Regions from separate parts of the Homo sapiens genome. Here region 1 is linked to region 2. The links come from fine-mapping of genetic effects on gene expression. A gene starts in region 2. The other region holds a variant in brackets. All regions are shown on one strand. Distances are between the middles of the regions. Region 1 holds the start of TMEM86B (transmembrane protein 86B). Region 2 holds the start of DNAAF3 (dynein axonemal assembly factor 3).

What was found. PIP is the estimated chance that this variant, and not a neighbour inherited with it, causes the effect.
Region 1: its variant is fine-mapped to the expression of DNAAF3 in thyroid (GTEx, PIP 0.93).

Annotation. Positions count from the first base shown.
Region 1 is chr19:55,222,575-55,232,672 of GRCh38, reverse strand. TMEM86B (transmembrane protein 86B) reads left to right here and starts at 3,910. Exons shown (of 3, transcript NM_173804.5): 1 at 3,910-3,982; 2 at 4,236-4,482; 3 at 5,110-6,035. The coding sequence starts at 3,932. The coding sequence ends at 5,492. PPP6R1 (protein phosphatase 6 regulatory subunit 1) reads left to right here. Exons shown (of 24, transcript NM_014931.4): 18 at 462-598; 19 at 691-871; 20 at 1,005-1,075; 21 at 1,182-1,263; 22 at 1,789-1,899; 23 at 1,989-2,060; 24 at 2,142-2,894. The coding sequence ends at 2,145. MIR6804 (microRNA 6804) reads left to right here and starts at 1,721; the gene lies at 1,721-1,788. The variant C/T (reference allele first, on the strand shown) is at 4,352.
Region 2 is chr19:55,161,075-55,171,172 of GRCh38, reverse strand. DNAAF3 (dynein axonemal assembly factor 3) reads left to right here and starts at 4,560. Exons shown (of 12, transcript NM_001256715.2): 1 at 4,560-4,650; 2 at 4,756-4,844; 3 at 5,173-5,315; 4 at 5,710-5,803; 5 at 8,883-9,040; 6 at 9,348-9,530; 7 at 9,755-9,880; 8 at 9,986-10,098. The coding sequence starts at 4,760. DNAAF3-AS1 (DNAAF3 antisense RNA 1) reads right to left here. Exons shown (of 4, transcript XR_007067345.1): 2 at 9,959-10,098; 3 at 6,373-6,629; 4 at 4,269-5,354. LOC124904795 (small nucleolar RNA U13) reads right to left here and starts at 4,002; the gene lies at 3,899-4,002. RefSeq lists a silencer at 4,949-5,180 and an enhancer at 9,495-10,098.

The sequences.
Region 1 (10,098 bases), 62 kb before region 2:
CCATCTCTGCCTTCTTGGAGTTTCTAGTTGGAGGGAGAGAGTAGTGTGAAGCCTCTGTCCAGAGGGTGGGCCTGCTGGTGGGAAGGCCTGTCACTGTGGTGACCGTGTGAGGTGACGGCTGGGAGGTGGCTTGAGAGCTGGTGAGTGGGTCTGTCTGCTCTGGTTGCCATGGCTGAGGCTCAGCCCACTTCCCCAGGGCCTGCCCTCCACGGATGACTGGCGACGGACGGTCTCCTTACGGCCGCATTCTGTCCCTGCCCGCCTGTGTTCTTGCCGTTGGCTCAGAACTCCCTCTCCCAGCCTCTCCTGGTGTCGTCACACCCCAGGCTCCCTGGACCCTTCTGTGACCTGCCTGTCATCCCAGCCCGCTCTCCTTGGGCTGACCCTGGGCTGCAGGGAACAGGATGGGTGTCGGCCGGTCTGTCCCACACAGCTAGCTGACGAGGTGGTTTCTGGGGCAGGAGTGGAGGCAGCACAGACAGTGAGGACGAAGAAGAGGAGGACGAGGAGGAGGAGGAAGACGAGGAGGGCATTGGCTGTGCAGCCCGTGGAGGGGCCACCCCTCTGTCCTACCCCAGCCCTGGCCCTCAGCCTCCAGGTGAATGAATGGGCGGTGTGGTCAGGTGTACACAGGGCTGTCTGCCTGCTACTGAGTTCACCCTCCATCCCGCTCCCCCACCTCTATCCCAGGCCCCAGCTGGACAGCCACCTTTGACCCAGTGCCTACAGATGCCCCGACCAGCCCCCGAGTCTCCGGGGAGGAAGAGCTGCACACTGGGCCTCCAGCCCCACAGGGGCCCCTCAGTGTGCCCCAGGGCCTCCCCACTCAGAGCCTGGCCAGCCCTCCTGCCCGTGACGCCCTGCAGCTCAGGTGAGAACCGGATGGAACGGGCTAAATGGTGCTGGTATCCCGAGGCCAGGAGGTGGCCATGGGGTCCCCGTCCTCTCATAGGCTCGAGTGCTAACCCTAGCTGCCCCCTTGGGCTGCCTCTCTCGCCTACCAGGTCTCAGGACCCCACACCCCCCTCAGCACCTCAGGAAGCCACAGAAGGCAGCAAAGTCACGGAGCCCTCAGGTGAGCCCCGCTTTGCCCTGCCCACCCGCGGCCCTGGGCAGAGAGAGCAGCCTGGCCAGCTCCGAGCTTGCTGGGAGCTGCAGCTGAGATCTCTTATCCCCCACAGCCCCTTGCCAGGCCTTGGTTAGCATCGGGGACCTTCAGGCCACCTTCCACGGGATCCGTTCTGCCCCCAGCTCCTCGGACAGGTGAGCAGCGAGGTGGGGCTGCCTAGTATCGGGAGAAGTCTTTTCTCCTCTTCGCTGAGGTGGGCTCTGGGTTCATCTTGTCCCTGAGCTGCTCCAGGCCTCCTTTGCAGGACCCCCAGGCGCAGCCTCATGTTGTGCCCCAGCCCCTTGCACTCTGTAGGCTGGTTCTTCTCTTAGTAGCCTGGGATGCTTGGGGCCCTTGAGCCCCAGGGTTGGGAAGGGCTCGTTGGAGGGTGTGAAGGATTGGGAGGGTGAGAGCATGCAGAAGACCCTTTGGGGCTGTCTCAGCCGGCCTCGAGTACCTCCTCCACAGGGACAGGAGGCGGGAAGAGGGGTGCTTGTCTTCCTGTCCAGGGCTGTGCTGTCCCTCCACGCTGAGCCAGCTGCGTCCTCGGGAGGCCCCTCCCCGTGGGGCAGGTGGCAGACACACACCCAGTGAGCCGACTTCAGTCGGGTGGGATGTGAGGGTGTCAGCAGGTGACGGTGGGGGCCACGCTGACAGCCGCACCTGCCTCTCACCCACAGTGCAACCAGAGACCCCTCTACCTCTGTCCCAGCCTCCGGGGCCCACCAGCCCCCCCAGACCACAGAAGGGGAGAAGAGCCCAGAGCCCTTGGGGCTTCCCCAAAGCCAGAGGTGAGCACCAGGGCAGCAGGGCGGGGGGGTGGGGGTGGGGCTGGTGGGGCAGGAAGTGACCTCTGCACATCCCCTCTCTCCCCTGACAGTGCCCAGGCCCTCACGCCTCCTCCGATACCCAATGGCTCTGCCCCGGAAGGGCCTGCATCCCCAGGCTCCCAGTGAGTGTGGCTGCAGCCTCGGGCTGGGTAGGTGGGGCTGGGCCTGCTAGACCCTCACACGACATCTCCCTCTGTTTCCAGATAGCTGCCTGGTGCGGCAGCGGCGGCCAAATCTTCCGTCCTCCCGTGGATCTCCCGGGGTGGGGGCAGGGCGGGTCCCACGATGGCCCCCATTGCCCTCATCACCCTGACACCCCCACATTCTCTCCTCTGGACCCCCAGGAGGCTGGTGCCAGGGAGACAGGCCCAACCCACCCCCATTTGCACTGAGAAGAGAAGTTTTGGAGCGTTGCCTCCTAGAATAAAGATACAGAGAGTCAAATAGAGAGAATGGAGAGAGAGAAACATATATTATATATTATATAGAGAGAGGGAGGAGAGCGAGAGAGAGTGAGGACACCGAACTGGGCTGGCGGCTCCAAAGCACAGCCTTCCCTGTTCCGTCCCAGCGGGAGCTGGTGTTAGGGGTCCCAAGGTTGCCACCCACGTGCCCAGCTGTCCCACGCTGCAGCGCAGACGGCCACGCCCACACCCGGCCTTTTAGCTCAGGTCCACCATGGGGGACGGCCCAGCGTGGGTGGGGGTGCCAGAGGGTCCCGAGTGGGGGCCGTGCCTTTGCCCAGACCCTGCACTTTCAACCAGGCCAGTCCGGCTCTGGGGAGCAGGGGCCTCCCCGGCAACAGCCCCAGGGGCCTTGAGGGTCTGAGGTCCCAGCCCTGTTGCCAAGTGACCTTGTCCCCAGCTCCCTCCTCCCAGGCTGGTGTGAGTGTGCGTGCGTTTGTGCCGAGCTTCTATTTCATATTGCAAATATAAATAAAGGAAGGCAGTTTACGATTCTGCTGGTCAGACCTTACGTTCTGGGATGCGGGGTGGGGAGCCTGTATTATCCCTGCACCCCAGAGGCTGGGGGTGCTCCTGACCCAGTCTGCCCCCACACTGTCCTGCCAGAGGGAGCCCTGTGGCTGCAGAGGCCCCAGGCTGGGCCAGGCACTGGCTGTGAGGGCTCCTGCCAGGTCTACCCCACCTGTGGGCAGGGCCTTGGGCAGAGGATAGAAGCCACCGACAGGCTCAAATCCCTGCTCCTGCCCCTGCTTACCCCCAGTAACCAAGCCCAGCATTGAGGCTGGGTACTGGCGCCCAGTAGGTCTGAGTCTTTCAGGTAGAAGGTAGAAGTGTAGGCTGCGTGTGCAGCGAGTGGCACCGGTGAGCGGCGCTGGGAAACCGGAGCGTGTGGACCGGGCCATGAGGACAGCGTCCTCACTGGGGTGGCAGTTGGCTTGGAGGTCACCTGGGGGCTCGCTCAGCTAACAGGAGAGGGTGCTTGTTCCCCGCATTCGTGGTGGTCCCTCCTGGTCACCCATTGAAGCAGTGTTTGTGGTGGAGCCCCTGAGGGCTTGGTGGGGTTGAGCAGAATGAGGAAAGGTTTCATGGAGCAGGGAGGGAGACGGCTAGGGCAGCAAGTGAAGGACAGACTCGCCTTCCCATCCCTCCAGGGGCACTCCTGCCAGCCAGCCCCTCTCCCGCTTCCCATGATGGGGTGGCTGTTGGAATTCTGCACCCCATCTCTTCTGATTGTTGGGGCCCAGGACAAGGGGACAGGCATTTGTGGGCCTAACCTCCCCAGGCAGATAGGAGGAGGAAGCCATGTCCCAGCAGGCTAGGGCAGAGGGACCCCCAGTGCCAACAGTGCTTTATCAGCGGGCGCCAGGCAGGGCCATCCCCAGGGTGAGGACAACATCTCCCTGGGCCCTGTTATCAGTCACAGAGTCCACAGGACGCTCCTTGGGTTAACGTGTAACCATGAGCCCTCCCCTCCACCCCCTGAAGCCACTCGCTCCCAGATTAGGTCGCTCTGGGGCTATCAGGCCAGCATGGACGCTGGCAAAGCGGGGCAGACCCTGAAGACTCACTGCTCAGCCCAGGTGAGAGCCTTCTGAGCTGTGCCTGGGGCTGGGGGGACAGGGCCCTGGAACCCCAGCAGCCGGCGGGTCTGGGAGCTGCTGTCCTTGAGTTGGTTGGGCCCTGGGAAGCTGGGTTCTGGCAGCCTGGTCCCTGAATGGGTCCAGCCTGTACAGCTGGGGTCCCAGGTGGGGGTGGGACAGGAGCCATGAGATCTGAGTCCCAAGAATGGGGGCTGGGCTGGGTTTCGGCTCAGTAGCTCCCCACTCCCCAAAGCGCCCAGATGTCTGCAGGTGGCTGAGCCCCTTCATCCTCTCCTGCTGCGTGTACTTCTGCCTCTGGATTCCCGAGGACCAGCTGTCCTGGTTCGCTGCCCTGGTCAAGTGCCTGCC[C/T]GTCCTCTGCCTGGCTGGGTTCCTGTGGGTCATGTCCCCAAGCGGGGGCTACACCCAGCTCCTCCAGGGAGCCCTTGTGTGCTCGGCTGTGGGGGACGCTTGCCTCATCTGGCCGGCAGCCTTCGTCCCTGGTGAGTGGAAGGTGCTGTGACGCTTTCCAGATGCCCGTGTGAGAGAGGCCCCAGCACTTGGATGGGAGCCTGGGTGCAGAGGGCTCCTGTGAGAGCTCCAGTGGTCAAAGGCACAGTGGGGGGCGCAGCCGTGACCGAGGCAGCTCACGCTCCAGCGAGGGGTGGGGGCAGGCGGTGTTAGGGCAGTAGCTGAGGTGGCGCAGAGGGCAGTGAGGACCTGCTGGAGGTACTGCAGTTTGAAGCAGGGTTGCTGAGGAAGGCCTCACTGAGGAAGTCACATTTGGGCAGAGCTGAAGGGCTGTATGCCTGTGTGGAGGAAGGGCGAGTGTAAAGGCTCCGGGGCAGGGACGTGTCAGGTGCTTGTAGCCCAGCAGGCCAGGGTGGCTGGCGCAGAGTGGCTGGAGAGCTGGAGGCCATGGGGCTTTGGAGGCCAAGGGAAGGTGGGGCCTCCTGGCAGTTCTGAGCAGAGCAAGGATGGACACTGCATGTGGGGAGACCTGCAAGGAGGCTCGGCCAGGGTGGGGCCTGGTGCTCTGGGATGGTCCTTCTCTTAGGCCCTGAGGGGTGACCTCGGGGCCATTCCCAGGATGGGCCTTCCTCACTGGTACCCCACCCCTCTCCCGCCAGGCATGGCCGCCTTTGCCACCGCCCACCTCCTCTACGTCTGGGCCTTCGGCTTCTCTCCCCTGCAGCCCGGCCTGCTGCTGCTCATCATCCTGGCCCCTGGCCCCTACCTCAGCCTTGTGCTCCAGCACCTCGAGCCGGATATGGTCCTGCCGGTGGCAGCCTATGGGCTGATCCTGATGGCCATGCTGTGGCGCGGCCTGGCCCAGGGCGGGAGTGCCGGCTGGGGCGCGCTGCTCTTCACGCTCTCTGATGGCGTGCTGGCCTGGGACACCTTCGCCCAGCCCCTGCCCCATGCCCACCTGGTGATCATGACCACCTACTATGCTGCCCAGCTCCTCATCACACTGTCAGCCCTCAGGAGCCCGGTGCCCAAGACTGACTGACTAGGGAGCTTGAAGGGCCGGTGTTCAGGCCCTCTCCTCCTGCAAGGACCTGGGCCTCCCAGCCCAGCCCAGCCTGAGAAATACCCTCAGCAGCGAAGCTTCCTGACGCCTGTCTGCAGGCGCCGCTGCCGCCGTCGCTTCTGGCTGAAGACGTTTGAGGACGATTTGCGGAATTCCAAGTCCACTACTGGGTTCCAGCTGCCTTCCCCCGGTTCTGACTCCAGATCCCTGGCTCCTCAGCCAGGCCCACATGGAGCCCTCCCAGCCACCAGCCTGCCTCCATGTTCACTGTCGGCCCCACAGCCTGCCCGCCCCCTGCTGCTGCTCTGAATCCGTTTTCCCTGTGGGTGTGGAACCGTAGATGTTGCTGTTACCGTAGGAGAGGCCTCGGGGAGGGTCATGATTGTGATAAACCATCGCGGTTAATGACAGCAGAAGGTTCTTTGTCGCTCCCCATGGACCAGGCCTGGTGCCCAGTGGGACCCTCCATGGCCCTCTGGTGGGGGGATTCGGGGGGATAAAGTGAGGATTGTGCAGAACTGAGCCAAGAGGACTGTTTGGTCTTTGTGTTAGTTTCCTGAGGCTGCTGTCACAAATTACCCCAAGCCAGATGCTTTGAAACAAGATGAATGGACTCTCCTGCAGTTCTGGAGACCCAAAGTCCAAAATCCGGGTGTTTTCCGGCCCATGGTCCCTCTTGAGGCTCCAGGGAAGAATCCGTCCTTGCCCTCTCGGCTTCTGGAGGCTCCCGGGAATCCCTGGCTTCCATCGGCCTGTGGCTGTGTCTCTCCGTCTTCATGTGACTGTCTTCAACTGGCAGCCTCCCTCTGTGTCCGCATCCTTCTAGGGACACAGGTCATTGGATTTAGGGCCCACCCTAAACCCAGGGTGATTCTATCTCAAGATCCTTAAGTATGTCTGCAAAGCCCCTATTTCCAAGTAGTGTCACCTGCAGAGGTATCTGGGGTTAGGACTTGGACATATCTTTCTAGGGGATACAACCCGCTGCAGTCACATGCAGTATCGGGAGAAGGGTGGGAGGCTTGAGGATGAGGGGTCTTGGAGGAGGGAGGGCGGCAAGGGGGTAGGAATCAAATGGGAAGGAGGAACCCAGCTGTGCTCCTTGTCAAGGCTGTGTGACCTCGGCAAGCTGCTATCCCTCAGGTCCTCAGATTCTGCATCTGAAGACTTGACAGGGTCCAAGCTGCTCTCCAAGACCCTATTTGACTTCTGCATCCATGATGTGCTTTCAGTGACTCATAGCAGAGGGGCGACTTCTCCATCCATGGTTAGCATTTAGAGACTCTTACAGCAGAGAGGCGACCTCTCTATCCATGACCTGCATTTAGGGACTCTTAGAGCAGAGGTGACTTCTCCATCCATGACCTGCATTTAGGGACTCTTACGACAGAGAGGGGACTTCTCCATCCATGGCCAGCATTTAGGGACTCTTACAGCAGAGAGGTGACTTCTCCATCCATGACCTGCATTTAGGGACTCAGATGTGAGAGTACAGAGGTGGGAAGGGAAGGTGGGGAGCCTGGAGGACGGGGACCAGGAAGGAAAGTGAGGACAGGAATCCACAGTTGGAGTGAGGAGAAGTGGAAGCTGAGGGATTTCCTTGAGGAAGGGTCAGGCATGAGGAGGATCTGAAGGATTGGACTCAGGTTCGAAACCTCCACTTCCTCCTCATCTCCTACCCTCTCCACTCAGACCTGGCGAAAGGTGGGGAAAGAGGAAATTGCGCAGTGAAGTGTAGCAGGAGGGACGGGGGTCTGGGTGTGCAGATTCCAGGGGCACGTGGGGCCTGCAGACATGAGGGGTTCCTGGAGGTGAGGGAGGAGGGGCTGGAACCTGGACTCCTGGGTCTGAGGGAGGAGGGGCTGGGGCCCTGGACTTCTGAGTCTGAGGGAGGAGGGACTGGGGCCTGGACCCCTGAGTCTGAGGGAGGAGCTGGGGGCCTGGACTCCTGAGTCTGAGGGAGGAGGGGCTGGGCCTGGACTCCTGAGTCTGAGGGAGGAGGGGCTGGGCCTGGACTCCTGAGTCTGAGGGAGGAGGGGCTGGGGGTCTGGACTCCTGGGTCTGAGGGAGGAGGGGCTGGGGGTCTGGACTCCTGAGTCTGAGGGAGGAGGGGCTGGGGACCTGGACTTCTGGGTCTGGGGGAGGAGGGGCTGGGGGCCTGGGTCTGAGGGAGGAGGGGCTGGGGGCCTGGACTCCTGCGTCTGAGGGAGGAGGGGCTGGGGTCTGGACTCCTGAGTCTGAGGGAGGAGGGCCTGGGGGCCCGAACTCCTGGGTCTGGGAGAGGAGGGGCTGGACTCCTGAGTCTGTGGGAGGAGGGGCTGGGGGCCTGGACTCTTGAGTCTGAGGGAGGAGGGGCTGGGCCCATAATCCCTGGTGTTTGGGGAACATTCTGGCTTTTGGTCCCTGGGCTCTGTGGGGTCGGCAGTCCAGAGCGACGGGACGCTGCTCTCCTGTCGGCATCCAGCAGCCCCAGCGTCGTGTCCCTCCTCCCTGATTCTGGTCCCCCGACGACCTTTCATCTGACTTCTCAGAGGTCTGCTTTCTCATGATCTGATTCGTGTTTCTCTAAAGCGGGACTCTCGGAGGTGCTGCGCACATCCCTCTCAGGCTCCTTCCAGCCCTGCCGGGACCCAGACCTGGGGCAAGGGGCAAAACGCCGGCTCCATCTTCCCTCCCAAGCCGGGGTGGCTGGTGGGGATGAGGCGGGGTGGGACTCAGCAGCCTTCATCCCGATCCTGCAGGTCAGACCACCGTGGGTCTGATTCCCCATCTGGGCCCTCCCCAGGCCCTCGGGACCACGACAGAGGCCACAGCAGCAGGTTAGTGACCCCATCAGCCTCCATCCTGCACGTCTAGGAAGGGCCGTGGGATTCCGTCTTCTGTTTGCCGCAGAGGCTTCTACCCATGTCAGCCGCCAAAGCAGACAGAATCGTGAGTGTGGAGGCTCGGACCTCCAGCTCCATCACCCTGAGCTGGGCAGCCCCAAGGGCCCAGACCGGCAGACTTCCATCTACTGGGTCCAGGGGCATGGCCAGCGGGAACACAAGCACGTCACACTGCTGGCTCGTGGTGGAGGGCTTCAGCCTGGGACCCTCTACACCACCTCTGTGTGGGCCAAGAAGAAAGGAGTAGGTGGCCCCAGGGACGTCCTGAGCATGTCTACAGGTAAGAGGGGCCACCTTTCCACTGCCCAGCAACATGTGCGTGTGTGTGCACGTGCACTTGTGTGTGCATGTGTGTTTGCGTGTGTGTGCGCGTGCGTGCGTGTGCACATTTGTAAAAAGTGCCAGGCTGTGCACTTTATTCTCATTAGAGCCACAAACAAACTTTATCAAATGACTCTCTCCTTTCCACATTCCCAAACTAGTCCCTGGCCTGGTCACACCGGCTCAGACCACCAGCTCCCTCACCCTGAGGGCCCCGCAGGCCCAGACTCCAAGACCTGCCCCTACTGGCTCTGCTGGGCCAGTGACTCCTCAGACATCAGGGTGCCTGTGGAGGGCCTGGCTGCAGGGACGCAGTACCCCAGCATGTGGGCCCAGAAGCATGAGGTCAACAGCCCCAGCCAGACGCTCACAGAGGCCACGGGCGAGGGGTGAGAGCACTCTGGGCTTGGGGAGTAGGAGGCCTCAGGAGGCCTCTGGCATCGGCCCCACTGATAGGGTGCATCCTTCCAGAGCAAGCAGGGCTGTGGGAAGGAGGGGATGCTTCCCTTTGCTCTGGAGGCCCAGGGACTATGGGGTGTGGTCTGTGAAGCAGGTTCACTGTGCACTGGTTACCAACTTGCCAGAGTGATGAGACAGAACGCCACACGCAAAAAGTTACATGAAGTGGGCTTGTTTCTCACAGATGGGCAGCAAGGGACAGCAGAATCCCAGGGTCCGTTGTAAGCTGGTCCCCCAAGGCTTAGGAAAGTGGCCTAGGGAGGATAGGGTCACAACTGTGTGTGCCTCACTTGTATGGCAGCTGAGGGACCCCAAAAAGTACCCAGCCCTGGGTTTTCTACTCTGGGGGAAACCTGAGTCACCGGGCTCAAGCATTGAAGGGCATCCTGTTTCTAGGGCAGGCAGGAATGGAGCCCAGGCCGCCTGGCCAGTCCCTCCATATCTCCGGATGTTGCATTCCCAGCACATTCTACTGTTACTCTTGAGAACTACAAGTAAGAGACAACTGGGTCTGTTTAAGGCCACTCAGATAACCTTCCTGCAGGAACCCTGACCCCCTTCCCTTCCTTTCCTTACCCGGCCAGGTCATGGATCTGAGGATACAGGCTCAGACCCTGAGTTCTGTTACACTAAGGTGTATATCCCCCCGGGGCCCAGACCCCCACACCTACACCTACTGGGTCCAGTGGGCAGGGACCACGGCCCCCAGTGGGACCAGAAGTGTGGCAGAGATGGGGTTGTGGTGGAGGCCCTGGAATCTGGGGCTTCATAAACCTTCATTGTGTGGGCTGAAAGGCGAGGTGGCTCATGCCTGAAATCCCTGCACTTTGGGAGGCTGAGGCGGGTGGATCACCTGAGGTCAGGAGCTCGAGACCAGCCTGGCCAATACGATGAAACCCTGTCTCTACCAAAAATACAAG
Region 2 (10,098 bases):
AGAAAATTTGGGGCTGGGCGTAGTGGCTCACGCCTGTAATCCCAGCACTTTGGGAGGCTGAGGTGGGCGGATCACCTATGGTCAGGAATTCAAGACCAGCTGGGCCAACATGCTGAAACCCTGTCTCTACTAAAAATACAAAAATTAACTGGGTGTCGTGGCAAGCACCTGTAATCCCAGCTACTAGGGAGGCTGAGGCAGGAGACTCGCTTGAACCCAGGAGGTGGAGGTTGCAGTGAGTCGAGATCGCGCCATTGCACTCCAGCCTGGACAACAAGAGCAAAACTCCATCTAAAAAAAGAGAGAGAGAGAGAGAGAGAGAATTCCTGTGAAATGCTCAGAATCACACAGCCAGAGAGCCTGTCTCTAAATCCTGGGATTGATTTAGATGATGGCAATGGGGTCCTTGGGTCTCTGTCTCAACAAGAAAGCAGAGCGATAGAAGAATAAAACCATTACAAATGGCCGTCCACACTGGGACCAAAACGTAAAAAGGCTGACATAACTTAGGGAGGGTGGTCAGGGGCAGCCTTGCTGAGGAGGTGCGGTCTGGGCCATGACTTGAATGACAAGAAGGAACGAAGCTTGCAAAGGTTAGGGAGAACAACAGTGGAATATTATTTGGTCATAAAAACAGAAGAAAGCATTGATTCATGCTTCAGCATAGATGAGTCCTGAAAATATTATGCCAAGTGAAGGAAGCCGGATACAGAAGGCTGCATAGTGCAGTATTCCATCCAAAAGAAATCTCCTGCACTGACAAATACATAGAGACAGAAAGTAGATTCGTGGTTGCCAGGGACAGAGGAGAGAGAAATGGGGAGATAAATGGGGTACGTGTTTTCTTTTGGAGTGATGAGAAAGTTCTGGAATTAGACAGTGGTGATGGTTGCACAGCATTGCAAGTGTACTAAATGTCATTCCCAATCAACTTAATAGTGTGTGTGTTTTACACCAATTTAAAAAGAAAACAAGGCCAAGCACGATGGCTCATGCCTTAATCCTAGCACTTTGGGAGGCAGGAGGATTGCTTGGGGCCCAGGGTTAGACACCAGCCTGGATAACCTCTCTATTTTTAAAATTTGTAAAGTTAGCTAGGTATGCTGGCACGTGGCTATAGTTCTAGCTACTTGGGGAGCAGAGGTGGGAGGATCGATTGAGCCCAGGAGTTTCAGGCTGGAGTACTCCAGCCTAGGCAACAGAGCAAGTCCCTGCCTTAAATAAATAAATAAATAAATACAGCCGGGCGCAGTGGCTCACGCCTGTAATCTCAGAATTTTGGGAGGCCAAGGCCGGCGGATCACTTGAGGTCGGGAGTTTGAGACCAGCCTGACCAACACGGAGAAACCCTGTCTCTACTAAAAATACAAAATTAGCTGGGCGTGATGGCACATGCCTGTAGTCCCAGCTACTCAGGAGGCTGAGGCAGGAGAATGGCTTGAACCCGGCAGGTGGACGTTGCAGTGAGCCGAGATAGCGCCATTGCACTCCAACCTGGGCAACAAGAGTGAAACTCCATCTCAAATAAGTAAATAAATAACAGCCTGGGCAACTAGTGAGACCCTTTCTCTACATAAATAAATAAATAAATATCCGGGCATGGCGGCACTTGCCTGTGGTCCCAGCTACTCAGGGGACTGAGGTGGGAGGACTGCTTGAGCCTGAGAGGTTGAGGCTGCAGTGAGCTATGATCACACCACTGAACTCAAGTCTGGATAACAGAGCAAGACTTTGTCTCAAAAATAAATATATAGAAAACAAAGATGAGGGGGAAGATAATTTAAGGCAAAAGAATCCCAAGTTGCAAAGGCCCTGGGGTTCAAACGGCTTGGTGTGTTCTCCAAGGAGCCAGGAGGCTGATGTGGCTTCAGGGGTGGATGACTGCAGATTGCATAGGGCATAGGGAGCCAAGCTAAGGAGCGGGGAATGTGTCCAGGTGCAGCGGGAAGACTTTGGAGGATTTGAAGAGGTGGGAGACATTATTTGATTTATGTTTAAGATCACTCTGGGCCAGGTGCAGTGGCTCACACCGGTAATTCCAGCACTTTGGGAGGCTGAGGCCGGCGGAACTCTTGAAGTCAGGAGTTCGAGACCAGCCTGGCTAACATGGTGAAACCCCGTCTCTACTAAAAATAAAAAAGAATCGCTGGAGCTGGGCACGGTGGCTCACGCCTGTAATCCTAGCGCTTTGGGAGGCCAAGGCAGGTGGATTGCCTGAGCTCAGGAATTCGAGACCAGCCTGGGCAACACGGTGAAACCTCGTCTCTACTAAAATACAAAAAATTAGCTGGGCGTGGCAGCGTGCGCCTGTAATCCCAGCTACTTGGGAGGCTGAGGCAGGAGAATTGCTAGAACCCGGGAAGCGGAGGTTGCAGTGAGCCAAGATCGTGCCACTGCACTCCAGCCTGGGCGACAGAGCAAGACTCCGTCTCTAAAAAAAAAATAATAAATAAATAAATCGCCTGGCTCGGTGGTTCACACCTGTAATCCCAACACTTTGAGAGACCAAGGCGGGCAGATCACCTGAGGTCGTGAGTTGGAGACCAGCCTGACCAACACGGAGAAACCCTGTCTCTACAAAAAATACAAAATTAGCCGGGCGTCCTGGCGCCTGCCTGTAATCCCAGCTACTCGGGAGGCTGAGGCAGAAGAATGGCTTGAACCCGGGAGGCGGAGGTTGCGGTGAGCCGAGATCGCGCCATTGCACTCCAGCCTGGGCAACAAGAGTGAAACTCTCTCTCTCTCTCTCTCTCTCTCTCTCTCTCTATATATATATATATATATATGTATATATATGTATATTTGTATTTTATTTTGTATATATATACAAAATATTTGTATTTTATTTTGTGTATATATAAATATATATACATATATTTGTATTTTATTTTGTGTGTGTATATATATATATATACACAAAATAAAATACAAATACAAAAATTAGCTGGTGTGGTGGCAAATGCCTGTAGTCCCAGCTACCTGGGAGGCTGGGACAGGAGAATCGCTTGAACCCGGGAGGCGGAGGTTTCAGTGAGCCGAGATCGCGCCACTGCACTCCAGCCTGGGTGTCACAGCAAGACTCCATCTCAAAAAAAAAAAATGTCACTCTGGTTCCTTTGCTGAGAATTTGTTGGGAGAGTGGGAGAAATAGGGAGGAAAGGCATTAATTCTCCAGAGAGAAACCCAGGATCTGGGGCTCTTGCAGGCTTAGAGCTGGCCTGGAAGGGGCTGGTTAGCCAGCCTGATTCTGCAGGAATGTCTGAGGTCTCAACCTTCGTTTCCCCAGTAGGTATTGTCTTCCCAGTGCCCAGATCTGCCCTCAGGAGGCAGATCCGCTGCACCTCTGCCCGCTGCACGCTACATTCCCATTTCACAGAGCAGCAGACTGAGGCTCAGAAAGGGTGACTGGTCTAAGCTCATGTGTCTGGGCAAGGAGAGGAGGCAGAGAGCCAAGTCCCCTTGGGCGCTGAGCCCAGTGCTGGGTGCTGGGGTGATCTAGAGATGTGCCTCATTCAGACTTTGGTTTTTCTTTTTTTTTTTTTTGAGACAGAGTCTTGCTCTGTCGCCCAGGCTGGAGTTCAGAGGCGCGATCTCAGTTCACTGCAACCTCTGCCTCCCAGGTTCAACAGACTCTCCTGCCTCAGCCTCCGGAGTAGCTGGGATTACAGGTGCGTGCCACCACGCCCGGTTAATTTTTGTATTTTTTAAGGTCGAGGCGCGGTTTCACCATGTTGGCCAGACTGGTCTCCAACTTCTGACCTCAAGTTATCTGCCCACCTTGACCTCCCAAAGTGTTGGGATCACAGGCGTGGCCACAGCGCCCGGCCGACTTACCCTTATTTTAATGCAGTTGATTTAACTGTACGATTACAGAATTTACCTGTAATTTTTTTGTTCATGTCAGAAGAGTAATGTGCCGATGTCGTAACAAGGTTTGAGGGAGGCACATCTCACGCATGCGCGTGAACACCCAATCATCCCGCTTAGAAACTACAAAAGGATCTAGCTGTAAGTTTAAATTATGGCTTCGTGTAACAATAACCAGCTCACAAATCCCTGAATTTTTAATGACCTGCACATCAGTGTCCCACCTGTGGGCTGTTCTGTGTGGTAGAGCCCACGTTGTGCTGGGGCGGGGAGCGGGCTCAGAAGCCTGCCATCTAAAGTCTAGACACTTCACTTTATTTGAATTGATGAAAATTCCGTTACGTATGAGCAAAGGCATATGAAGAAAACAAAAAAACAAAAAACAAGAAATAAGATTAAGCTCCCTTCACTCTCAATTTTAATCAGCCCAGGCCTCCCCCATTCCAGAAATTTGGACCGACCCTGACTCCGCCCCAACCTGTTCTAGCACCGCCCCTTCCCCCGCCGGCGCCGTCGTCATGACAACCGCGTCCACACGCCCTCTTCTCCTAGGTGTGGGGGAAGGCTGGCCCTCAGTGCTCCCATTGGCCAAAAGTTTGTAGAGGGCGGGCCTCGCTCACTCTCATTGGTCAGTTGCTCGCTGTGGTCCCATCCCACATGCTTCCATTGCTTGATTCCTCGAAAAGGGCGGGGACTCTGGGCAGCGGTTGTGGAGTGCCGCGGGTCCACAGTGCTGCACTGAGCAGAGAGGAAGGGGCGTCCCGGGATATTTGGAGGATAAAGGTGTGGGCAAGGTATCATGTGGAGGCAAAGGGGCGAGAAGTGAGGGGCGGTGAGAGGGGAGCGGGGCGGGCAATGTGTGCGATTCCCAGAATGTCTTTTCCGCAGGGTGATGACCACACCTGCCGGCTCCGGCAGCGGCTTCGGCTCCGTGTCCTGGTGGGGCCTGTCCCCGGCGCTGGACCTGCAGGCTGAAAGTGAGTCCCAGCACGCAAGGTCTGATACACCGTCTGCCTTCCCAGCCTGAGCAGACGGCCTTTTAGAGCTCGTAGTCCCAGCGTCGGTGGCAAGGGGGGCGCTAACGTTCTCCAACGCTCCAGCGGCAGAGGGCGCGCTCCCAGGGGCAGCCCCGAGGTCCTGTCTGCGGACTGCGAATCCCAGAATACTCAGAGGAAACACCTCCCCTTAGAACCTAGGCCACGGGCGGAACGCCTACTGGGATTTGTAGTCCATTTTTTATAGGGGATGCTACGGTGGACGCTCTGCCAACCACCATGGTGCCCCAGCCAGCTGTCATCTTGCCAGGTCCTCCTGTGGACCCAGACTCCCAGGCCGATACAGTGCACAGCAACCCCGAGCTAGATGTGCTGCTTCTGGGCTCTGTGGATGGACGGCACCTGCTGCGGACCCTGTCCCGAGCGAAGTTCTGGCCTCGCAGGAGGTTCAACGTGAGCTGGGATGAAGATGAGAGCCCAGATTCCCGAGTCCTTGAGGGAGGAAGGGATTGAAATTCTAAAACCTCAGGTCCAGGAATGAAGGGGCTGGAGACTCCTAGATCTGAGGGAGGCAGAAGCTGGGAGCGAACCGATGCGTCTTGGGGGAAGGAAGGGGCTGGGGTTTGGAACTCCTGGGTTCTATAGTGGGGAAGAGCTCGAGGATGAGGTCTTCTGAGTAATGGAAGGGAAGAGAGCTCTGGGGACACAGACTTCTGTGTTTGAAGGAAGAGGCTGGTGTACAGAACTCGGGTGTGTGGAAGGAGAGAGCTGAGGGCCTGCTCTCCTGGGTCTCCTAGGACCCAGGCAAACAGGTCTCAGAATTATTCTGCCCTGTCCATCCTTCTAGTTCTTTGTGCTGGAGAATAATCTGGAAGCTGTGGCCCGACACATGCTGATCTTCAGCCTAGCCCTGGAGGAACCGGAGAAGATGGGGCTGCAAGGTCTGTTGCTAGGACCCAGGCATTCTGACCGCTGGTCTCCTCCCCCTCCCTAGAGGGATTCTGGCATTTCAATGGTACAATTAAAAAGTTTGGTTATTTTCCTGGGAGGCGGAGGTTACAGTGAGCCGAGATCGCGCCATTGCACTCCAGCCTAGGCAACAAGAGCGAAACTCCGGCCGGGCGCGGTGGCTCACGCCTGTTAATCCCAGCACTTTGGGAGGCCGAGGCAGGAGAATGGCGTGAACCCGGCAGGCGGAGCTTGCAGTGAGCTGAGATCGCGCCACTGCACTCCAGCCAGGGTGACAGAGCGAGACTCCGTCTCAAAAAAAAAAAAAAAAAAAAAAAAAAGAGAGCGAAACTCCATCTAAAAACCAAAAATGTTTGGTATTTTCCAGTGTGGTACCTCTGATGAAAAAAAAAATCCAATATATTTATTGATGATGGTCCCCTCTGATGTAATTTGCCATCTTAGAGCCTCAGCTCCTCCTACCTGTAAAATGGGGCTAAATATAATACATCTTAGAGCCACTTAGAAAATTCCAGGAGAGGCTGGGTGCAGTGGTTCACACCTGTAATCCCAGCACTTTGGGAGGCTGAGGTGGGCAGATCACGAGGTCAGGAGATCGAGACCATCCTGCTCAACATGGTGAAACCCCGTCTCTACTAAACATACAACAATTAGCCGGGTGTGGTGGCAGGCGCCTGTAGTCCCAGCTACTCGGGAGGCTGAAGCAGGAGAATCACTTGAACCCGGGAGGCAGAGGTTGCAGTGAGCCGAGATCACACCACTGCACTCCAGCCTGGGCGACAAAAGCAAAACCTCCATCTAAAAAAAAAAGAAAGAAAGAAAAAGAAAACAGGTTTGTTTGTTTATTTATTTATTTATTTGAGGCAGAGTCTTGTCCCGTTGCCCAGATTGGAGTGCAATGGCACGATCTTGGCTCTCCATAACCTCTGCCTCCTGGATTCAAGCAATTCTCCTGCCTCAGTCTCCCAAGTAGCTGGGATTACAGGCATGCACCACCATGCCCGGCTAAGGTTTTGTATTTTTAGTAGAGCCGGGGTTTCACCATGTTGGCCAGGATGGTCTCGAGATGCTGACCTCAGGTGATCCGCCCGCCTTGGCCTGCCAAAGTGCTAGGTTTACAGGCGGGTGCGATCACACCCGGCCCCAAGAAAAGAGGTTTAATTGACTCACAGTTCCACAGGCTGTACAGGGAGTATGGCTGGGAAGGCCTCAGGAAACTTACAATCATGACAGGAGGCGAAGGGGATGCAGGCATCTGTTCCACGGCAGGAAAAGGGGCAAGAGAGGCAGTGGGGAAGAGGCGCACACTTGCAAATAACCAGATTTTGTGGGAACTCACTATCACGAGAACAGCAAGGGAGAAATCTGCCCCTGTGACCCAATCACCTCCCACCAGGCCCCGCCTCCAATATTGGGGATTACAATTCAACATGAGATTTAAGCAGGGACACAGATCCAAACCATATCAGTCATTAATGACCCAGGGAATTCAGAGTACATTGCACAGTACAGATTGTTCAAAGTTCTTAAACAGTTAGAACTAAACTGATCTATTTTACTAAAGGCACATAGTTCTCTTCTATTAAGTTCTTAAACAACTAACATGAAACTATTTGTATGTCTATGTGTATATATATTATATGCAAAGGTATATACAGTCATCCCTCAGTAACACTGGGGACTGGTTCCAGGACCCCTGCAGATACCAAGATCCAAGGATGCTCAAGTCCCTTATAAAATTGTATAGTATTGCCAGGGGCGGTGGCTCACGCCTGTAATCCTAACACTTTGGGAGCCTGAGGTGGGAGGACTGCTTGAGACCACGAGTTTGAGACTGGCCTGGTCAACATAGTGAGACCCCGTCTCTACAAGAAATAAAATATTGGCCGGGCGCGGTGGCTCACGCCTGTAATCCCAGCACTTTGGGAGACCGAGGCAGGCAGATCACGAGGTCAGGAGATCGAGACCATCCTGGCTAACACGGTGAAACCCCGTCTCTACTAAAAATACAAAAAAAAAAAAAAAAAAATTAGCCGCCGGGCGCGATGGCTCACGCCTGTAATCCCAGCACTTTGGGAGGCTGAGGCGGGTGGATCACGAGGTCAGGAGATCGAGACCATCCTGGCTAACACGTGAAACCCCGTCTCTACTAAAAATACAAAAAATTAGCCGGGTGTGGTGGCGGGCGCTTGTAGTCCCAGCTACTCCGGAGGCTGAGGCAGAAGAATGGCGTGAACCCGGGAGGCGGAGCTTGCAGTGAGCCGGGATCGCGCCACTGCACTACAGTCTAGGCGACAGAGCGAGACTCCGTCTCAAAAAAAAAAAAAAAAAAAAAAAAAAAAAAGAAAAAGAAAAGAAAAAGAAATAAAACATTAGCTGGGTGTGGTAGCTAATGCCTAGCCCCAGCTAGCTGGGAAGCTGGAGGAGGAGGGTCCCTTAAGCTCAGGTGGTCGAGGTAACAGTGAACTATGATGGCACAACTGCATTCAGCCTGGGCAACAGAGTGAGACACTGTCTCAAAACAAAAAAGATGTACTTACAAATAGCCTGTACACATGGTCCCATACACCGCAAATCATCTCTAGATTACCTATAATATGTAATACAATGTAAATGCTTACACCATATTTTACAATTTGTATTATTTTTTACTGTTGTGTTGTTATCTTTTCCCCCAAATATTCTCTGTCTGCGGTGAGTGTGGAATCTGCAACTCTAATTCCCTCTTCTAGGTGGTTATTTATTTATTTATTTTAGAGGCGGAGTCTCACTCTGTTGCCCAGGCTGGAGTGCAATGGCATGATCTCGGCCCATTGCAACCTCCGCCTCCGGGTTCAAGCGATTCTCCTGCCTCAGCCTCCCGAGTAACTGGGATTACAGGCGCCCGCCACCATGTCCGGCCCTGTTCTTCATGTAGTTTTTGGGATGCGTGGGGAGTTTGCGGGGGTTCATTGTTTTCATTAGATGACTATGACATAATAACATATTAAGGGTGTAATTTCTGGGCTCCCTCCTCCACACATTCCCGCAATTATCTCCCTCTCTCCGTAGAGCGAAGCGAGACCTTCCTGGAAGTGTGGGGGAACGCGCTGCTGCGCCCGCCAGTGGCCGCCTTCGTGCGTGCCCAGGCCGACCTGCTGGCGCACCTGGTCCCCGAGCCCGACCGCCTGGAGGAACAGCTGCCCTGGCTCAGCCTCCGCGCCCTCAAGGTGCCGCCGCCCGGCCTCCATCTGGGATCGGGTGGCCGCGGGAATAATGGAAGCGCACAGTCCAAAGGACGTGCGTTGATGGAGCAGGCGGCGGGCTAGGGGGTTCGAATCCCAGTTCCCCGACTCCCACTGTGGGATTTGGCCTGGGGGCAGGAGGTGGCTTCTGCTTTCGGAGCCTCAGTTTTTCCATCCGAGAAACGGGGGAATCGTTCCCCTGTTCTGGGATGGAAGAGAGGGTCAATTAGAATCCGCTCTCCCTGCATCCCTCTCTGCCTTCCTCTGTCCCACCGCGTGCCTGGCCCCGCAGTTCCGCGAGCGGGATGCCCTGGAGGCCGTATTCCGCTTCTGGGCTGGCGGCGAGAAAGGGCCCCAGGCGTTCCCCATGAGCCGCCTCTGGGACTCGCGCCTGCGCCACTACCTGGGCTCCCGCTACGACGCCCGGCGCGGTGTCAGCGACTGGGACCTGCGCATGAAGCTGCATGACCGCGGGGTGAGGGGCCCAGGAGAGGGGCTGGGGGCCTGGACCCCTGGGTCTGAGGGAGGAGGGGCTGGGGGCCTCCTGAGTCTGAGGGAGGAGGGTTTGGGGGCCTGAACTCCTGGGTCTGAGGGAGGAGGGCCTGGGGACCTGGACTCCTGGGTCTGAGGGAGGCTGGTGTAGGGGTCTCTCCACGCTCGGTTCACTGAGGGCTCCCTTCTTCCCGCCCCCCACCCCAGGCTCAAGTCATTCACCCCCAGGAGTTCCGACGCTGGCGGGACACAGGCGTCGCCTTTGAACTCAGGGACTCCAGCGCCTATCATGTGCCCAACCGGACCCTGGCGTCCGGTCGCCTCCTGAGCTACGTGCGTGTCCACTGCCTGTCCTGGCCCACTGCTGCTGCTCGGAGTCCTAGGAGTCAGGGGCCCCAACATCGACCTCACCTGCCTCCTCTCTCCCTCCTTTTCCAGCGTGGGGAGCGCGTGGCAGCGCGCGGGTACTGGGGGGACATCGCCACGGGGCCCTTCGTGGCCTTCGGCATCGAAGCGGACGACGAGAGCCTCCTGCGGACGAGCAACGGCCA